Linked DNA regions of Homo sapiens. The protein of the gene in region 1 purifies or fractionates together with the protein of each later gene. This does not show direct contact. Each region holds a gene or a part of one and is shown on either strand. Other genes may lie near its edges.

What was found. Proteins that work in one complex are often made in the same cells at the same time.
Region 2: the proteins of GPM6A (region 1) and SEPTIN3 purify together in Homo sapiens (affinity purification with mass spectrometry; one large-scale study listed by BioGRID and IntAct). This does not show direct contact.

The regions. Positions count from the first base shown.
Region 1 is NC_000004.12:175,634,149-175,637,805, forward strand, and holds part of GPM6A (neuronal membrane glycoprotein M6-a), read right to left. Parts: intron 910-3,657; coding exon 757-909; 3' UTR 1-756. UniProt on the Homo sapiens protein: Involved in neuronal differentiation, including differentiation and migration of neuronal stem cells. Plays a role in neuronal plasticity and is involved in neurite and filopodia outgrowth, filopodia motility and probably synapse formation.
Region 2 is NC_000022.11:41,972,349-41,976,005, reverse strand, and holds part of SEPTIN3 (neuronal-specific septin-3), read right to left. Parts: coding exon 3,010-3,657; intron 1-3,009. UniProt on the Homo sapiens protein: Filament-forming cytoskeletal GTPase. May play a role in cytokinesis.

The sequences.
Region 1 (3,657 bases):
GGTAAGCCTGGTGTCACAATCTTAAAAAGGCAACTAGCCATGCATTAGCATTACTGTTTCTACATGCTCACAACATAAACATGAGTAATCTGAGGGAAATACCTTTTAAGAACATCAAGGAAAAGTACAATGTTAACAAAGATAAGAAGCACTTTTTTTTTTAAACCTACTCTTACAAATTTAGAAATTGCACCTTAGATTGATGAAAACATGAACCAGGGCCTACAGTAATATGGCCACTGATCTTCAGACAAAATTTCCATATTTCAAGAGTCATCAAGATGTAATCTCTATCTATTGTTCATAATGTACAATGGTCCCTTTGAAGGTTACCTGTAGTTAAACTAGTTACCGAAATCAAAACTAAAAAGTATAAAAAGCTATTTTCTTTTCAAAACATAAGAAATAATGCAAAAGGTGTTATGTATAACACATGGGAAGTGGTTAAAAATCAAACAAATCTTTGCATTTGACAATGTTAGTATCTTTGATTTTACAGAACTAGTAAATGAGTTTGAGAAATTTCAAAAAAAAGGCTGGATAGGAGCTTGTAGAAAAGATCTGATTTACATCAATTTAATAAATTGGGAAATTTAAGTGCTAAACAACAAAGAATTGTACTCAGGTGATTCATAAGTCACCTTACATATCATTGATGAGAAGCACTTTCGTTTTGTTTTTTAAAGGTTGGATGGTTGGATGGCCCTTAGTTAAACACCAATGCATTCAAATGGTAGAAAGAACAGGAAGATGCATTTATGTGTATGCATTGAGCCGCTCTTTGGAGCGAGTAGAGTGGATGTCATGAAGCTCTTGCTCTTCCTTCGACTTGATGTCTTCATACTTCTGCATCCGGCAGGCGTCTTTCACATAGGCCCAGTTGGCAGACAGAACCATAAGGTAGTGAACCTAATCAAAGAGAAAAATAATTTATATTGGAAGTTTGTTCAGTGTCTTCATTACACCTTGCTATCTCGAAAGAAGTCTTCGAATTATAGCTCTTTATAGGAAATGTTCACATATAAAATGGAAACAAAATTTCTTTGGTAACAGAAACAATATAAAATATATTTTCATTCCTCCAACTATATCCCACCATATTCTTGGCACCATTTCTTTCAGTATCTCTTTCTCCTTTTCAATTCTTGGAAGTAATCCAAAACTAATTCTTAGTCTTTATAGGATGTTTCCTGCCCAATGTGTCCTCATTTGCCCAAACCATAGATGATTCATTTCATGTTCATGTATCTATGTTTTATAATCCATAATCAGAAATATTTTCACATACCGTTGTGTCTAACTGACTTGAATTAATTGGAGGTTCTATTACCCCAATTAAAGAGAGATCATGGAAACCCCCAAATATACCTGTGGACTTGATTATCAGGTTAATTTTGCATATGATGAATTTTGTAGTTTCTTTTTGGTTATAAACTACAGGAGATAAAATATTGTGTTACATGGATTTTTTATATGTATATACATTCACAAAAACTGGAATAGTGCCATGTTCAAAAAGGAAGCTCCTGGTTTGTCTTGAGTAATGAAGTTGCTGGAGAAATAAAGCTCCTTTATTTGACTTGAGTTTACCCAGCAATGAGACCGCTTATTTGTTTTTCTTTTCTTTCTTCCCTCTTGGTCCACAGGGGAGATAAAGCAGCTTTCCACATGATGAATTTTGATGAATAGGGAAGAGAAACTAAGTTGACAGTTATTTACATTCTCTGAGTTTTAAAGGGTGGGCAATATTTTAATCCAACATTCAGAAAAATAGAACACTAAGATTTTGATAATTAGTAAACAGTACATTGAAAGAGGAGGCGGGCTGGTTCTAGAAAAGTACAGATGGATATAAAGAATGCAATGTCAATTCTAAATAATGAATATTGTGGTGTGTTCAGGTAGTCAACAAACAGCAAAAAACAAAATAATTTTGACACGGGATGTAGGGGAAAAGATGCATACCACTATAAATAACCTATTTTTAGAATTTTCTGTTTCCTCTGAAGTTTAGCATTTTGTTTAAGGAATATTGTAAGCCACCTGAAAGCAGGGGCTGTGAGTTATATTCTTGTACATTATGGCATTTACATAGTGAAAGCATAATCACTGTATATATATATATATATATATATATATATATATATATACATATATATATGGATTAAATAAGGCTTATACACATAATGAAGTTTATGCAGTATTTTGTTGCTGTAAAATATCAAGTGCTGTGGAGAGTGCTTAGTACATAGCAGATACACAAAATATTTGCCAAATAAATGAATGTATTTTTCAATCTTCAAAAACTTTTCATAATATCTGAGAAAATGTGGCCCCCAAATTATTATTAAATATGTATAATTGAGGCCAGGTGCGGTGGCTCACGCCTGTAATCCCAGCACTTTGGGAGGCCAAGGCGGGTTGATCACTTGAGGTCAGGAGTCCAAGACCAGTCTGGCCAACATAGTGAAACCCCATCTCTACTAAAAGTACAAAACGTAGCTGGGTGTGGTGCCACGTGCCTGTAATCCCAGCTACTCGGGAGGATGAGGCAGGAGAATGGATTGAACCTGGGAGGCAGAGGTTTCAGTGAGCTGAGATCATGATACTCTCCTCTAGCCTGGGCAACAGAGTAGACTCTGTCTCAAAAAAATACATATATATATTTACATAATATATATTATATATAAAATATATATTTTTATATTATATATATTTTACATACATGAGGAAGCACCTGTTTCTGAATTGGAGTGATCTTGAATTTCTTTTCAGTATTTCACTCATGCATATATATATATATATATGTATTTATATATATTTATATATGTAAATATATATAAGATAAAAAATATATTTATATAAAAATATATATAATACAAAAATATATAATATATTTATATATAAAATATTTGTAATATAAAAATATATAACATATAATATATCATATATAATATATTATATGTGATATATAATATATAATATATTATATATGATATATTATATGTCACATATAATATATCATATATGTGACATATATCATATATTATATGTGACATAATATATCATATATAATATAAAATATATATTATATATTATATATAATATAAAATATATATTATATATTATATATTATATAAAATATATATTATATATTATATATAATATAAAATATATATTATATATTATATATTATATAAAAATATATAATATATAACATATAATATATTATATAATATATAATAATATAATATAGTATATATATAAAAATGTATAATTATATATATAAAAATATATGGAGAGCCTTAGAAGGACTCCCAGTAACCTCATATATATATGACCTTTATATATATATAAAACCTTTATATTTTTATATATATAAAAATATACAATATATTATATATTATATAAAAATATATTATATATTATATAAAATATATTATATATTATGTAAAATATATAATATATAATATATATTATATATATATTATATATTATATAAAATATAAAATATATAATATATATAATATATATATAATATATAATATATTATATATTATATATATTTATATATAATATATTATATATTATATAAAAATATAATATATAATATAAAAATATATAATCTATATATAATATATAATATAAAAATATATA
Region 2 (3,657 bases), on another chromosome or scaffold:
AAGCAGAGAAAATTCCAGACAGGTGTGTAGAGCTAAATAAGAGGCTGGAGAAGTCCGCACGCAGCCTTGGAAGCTGGATTTTAATGGAAGGTAATGGTGAGTCACTGACGAATATTAAGCCGAAAGTGCTGCCATTCAATGTGGGAGTCGTTGCAGCAGTTGTGTGTGGACAGGGAACAAGCTGGTGGGTGGGAGGTGGCCTCACAGGGGCAGAAGGATGGAGAGGAGGGGACAGCCAGCCAGATAGTTGAGTACTGAGGAGGTAAACCAACAAGGTGGGAAGTAGACTGGATGAGATGGCAAGAGAGAGATGAGGAAGAAGAGGATACCCGGGTTTCTAGGCACCTAATAAAAGGTAGGCAATGCCTACAGCTGAGAGAGTGAGATCAGGGAGGCAGGAGTCAGTTCAAGAAGAAAAGGGCTACCTCTGGACATGCCCGGGAGACATCCGGGTAGATAAGCCTAGCAGGCTGCTGGCTGCCCACATCTGCACTTCAGGAGACAGGGCTGGGCTGCAGATGGAGGGAGAGCTGAGATCTCGTAGGGAGAAGTGAAGACCAGAATTTAGGTGAGGTGCCCAGACTGAGTGTGTGGGGTGGAGGGAAAGGGGTCTGACAATCTAACGACTCAATTAAGGCATTAGACTGGATGCCTTCTAGGCACCTTTCCAGACCCAAAAACTCTGAGCCCTTGAAATGTTGGGAATGAGGCTGCCCAAAGTAGAGATTTTAACAATCTGGATTCCAATCAGCTTACTGCCACCAGCCAGCTTTGGTGTGACTTTAGGCATGTCACAGGCTTTCTAAGACCAAATGAATGTCCAGCCCTTGTGTTGCCCTATTTTAGAGTTCTGTGTAGGACTTCCATATATACAAGGCTCCAACTTACCTTTCAGGATTAAAGGGCTGGGGGTGGGGGACCAAGAAAGAGACATTCAGGTAAGACAACTTTTAAGCAACAGATACCTTCCTAAAAGGCTGAGCGTAAATGGATTTGGAAAGTCTCGAGTGAGGTCATTATCTCACATCCAGAGGAGGCTGCAGAGACTACCTATTAGACAAATCACAACTTCCTAAAGCGCTAGTCAGTATTTTCACGTAGGAGGTAGGAGGCTTGCTTTTTTTTTTTTTTTTTTTTTTTTTTTTCTTTTTGAGACAGAGTCTCGCTCTGTCGCTCAGGCTGGAGTGCAGTGACGCAATCTCAGCTCACTGCAACCTCCGCCTCCCGGGTTCAAGCAATTCTCTGTCTCAGCCTACACACCTGGCTAATTTTTTGTATTTTTTAGTAGAGACGGGGTTTCATCATGTTGGCCAGGCTAGTTTTTTTTCTTTTTTTTTTTTTTTGAGACGGAGTCTCACTCTGTCACCCAGGCTGGATTGCAGTGGCGCAATCTCGGCTCACTGCAAGCTCTGCCTCCTGGGTTCACGCCATTCTCCTGCCTCAGCCTCCCAAGTAGCTGGGACTACAGGCACCCACCACCACACCCGGCTAATGTTTGTATTTTTAGTAGAGACGGGGTTTCACCTTGTTAGCCAGGATGGTCTTGATCTCCTGACCTCGTGATCCACCTGTCTCGGCCTCCCAAAGTTCTGGGATTATAGGTGTGAGCCACCACGCCTGGCCTGGCCAGGCTAGTCTTGAACAACTCACCTCGTGATCCACCCGCCTTAGCCTCCCAGAGTGCTGGGATTACAGGTGTGAGCCACTGCTTTTAAAGGTGGACACACCTATTGATCACCTGATTATTCCAGGTCTTCAGGAAACAAACAATCCCGGGAGATGCTGAAAGGAGGACTCACCATAATTGCTCCTCCACAAGTTACCCCTGTTAACCTTTCTTTTTCTTTTCTTTTTTTTTTTTTTTGAGACAGGGTCTTGCTCTGTCGCACAATCATGGTTCACTGCAGCCTCGACCTCCTGGGCTCAAGCAATTCTCCCACCTCAGCCTCCCCAGTAGCTGGGACCACAGATGCATGCCACCATGCCCTGCTAATTTTTTATTTTATTTTATCTTATTTTATTTTTTGAGACAGAGTCTTACTCTGTCACCAGGCTGGAGTGCAGTGGCACGATCTTGGCTCACTGCAGCCTCTGCCTCCCAGGTTCAAGTGCTTCTCGTGCCTCAGCCTCCCAAGTAGCTGGGACTACAGGCATGTGCCACCACACCTGGCTAACTTTTGTATTTTTAGTAGAGACGGGGTATCACCATGTTGGCCAGGCTAGTCTTGAACTCCTGACCGCAAGTGATCCACCCGCCTTGGCCTCCCAAAATGTTGGGATTACAGGTGTGCGCCACTGTGCCCAACCCTTATTTTTTATTTTTTTATTTTTTTGAGACGGAGTCTCGCTCTGTCGCCCAGGCTGGAGTGCAGTGGCATGATCTCGGCTCATTGCAAGCTCCACCTCCCGGGTTCACGCCATTCTCCTGCCTCAGCCTCCCAAGTAGCTGGAACTACAGGCACCCGCCACCACGTCCGGCTAATTTTTTTTTTTTTTTTTTTTGTACTTTTAGTAGAGACGGGGTTTCACCGTGTTAGCCAGGATGGTCTCGATCTCCTGACCTTGTGATCTGCCCGCCTTGGGCAGATCCCAAAGTGCTGGGATTACAGGCGTGAGCCACCGTGCCCAGCCCCTTATTTTTTATTTTTTGTAGAGACAGTCTCACCATTTTTCTCAGGCTGGTCTTGAACTCCTGCACTCAAGCAATCCTCCCATCTCAGCCTCCCAGAGTGCTGGGATTACAGGTATGAGCCACCACACCTGGCCAAAACCTTCTTTCTGATAGTTTCCCTCAGCCTGACCTCAGACTGGCAGGTTAGAACCCAGCTCAGGGTACAGTCCCTATGTCTGGCCCTACAACCCCCATTTCCTTTTCTCCCAACCCATTCAACCCTGACCTTAGAGTCCTTCCTCCGTTTCTCAACCCATGCAAGCATGATCCATCTCCAAGCTCACACACCTCCCCCTCCCGGCAGCCTAGTCCATCCCCAACCAAGTTTCTGCATTTACCTTTGTATTCTGTGGCCAGGTCCAGTGAGGCAGGCTCTGTGGCTCTGTCCATGGCAGCATTAGTGTTGTCCAGGGCTAGGTCTGTGGATCTGCTTGGCATTAGCAGGCATGTAGCAACGTCTGATATGGTTAGGTTATTAACACTGCCCAGTGTGGTCTTCCCAGTGGCTGGGTCTGGGGTTACTGGCACAACTGAACCCACAGCTGTGCCCATCCTGCTTGTGTCCAAAGCAAGAGAATTCTTAGCCGTGCCCAGCTTGGCTCTGTTCACTCTGGCCAAAGCCATGGCTGTTTCCAACCTACTGGTGCCCACTGTAGCTGTGATTGTGTCCGGCTTGACTGGGTCTGATGTTGCTGAATCCATGGCTATACCCTCTGTGGTCATATCTGGTTTGGCTGTGCTTCTTGTAGCCATGGCTTTGCCCAGCTTGTCTGGTTCTGAGGCTATCAAATCCATGACCATCCCTGGCTTGGTTGTCCCAACTGTAGTCAGATTCATGGCTGTGCCCGGCTTGATTGTGCCTGCTGTAGCCAAGTTCACGGTTTTGCCTGACTTGACTGTCCCTACCGAAGACAAGTCTCTGGCTGTGCCCAGCTTGATATCCAGGGCAGGGAACTCTGTGCCTGTGTCCAGTTGGGATGTGTTTG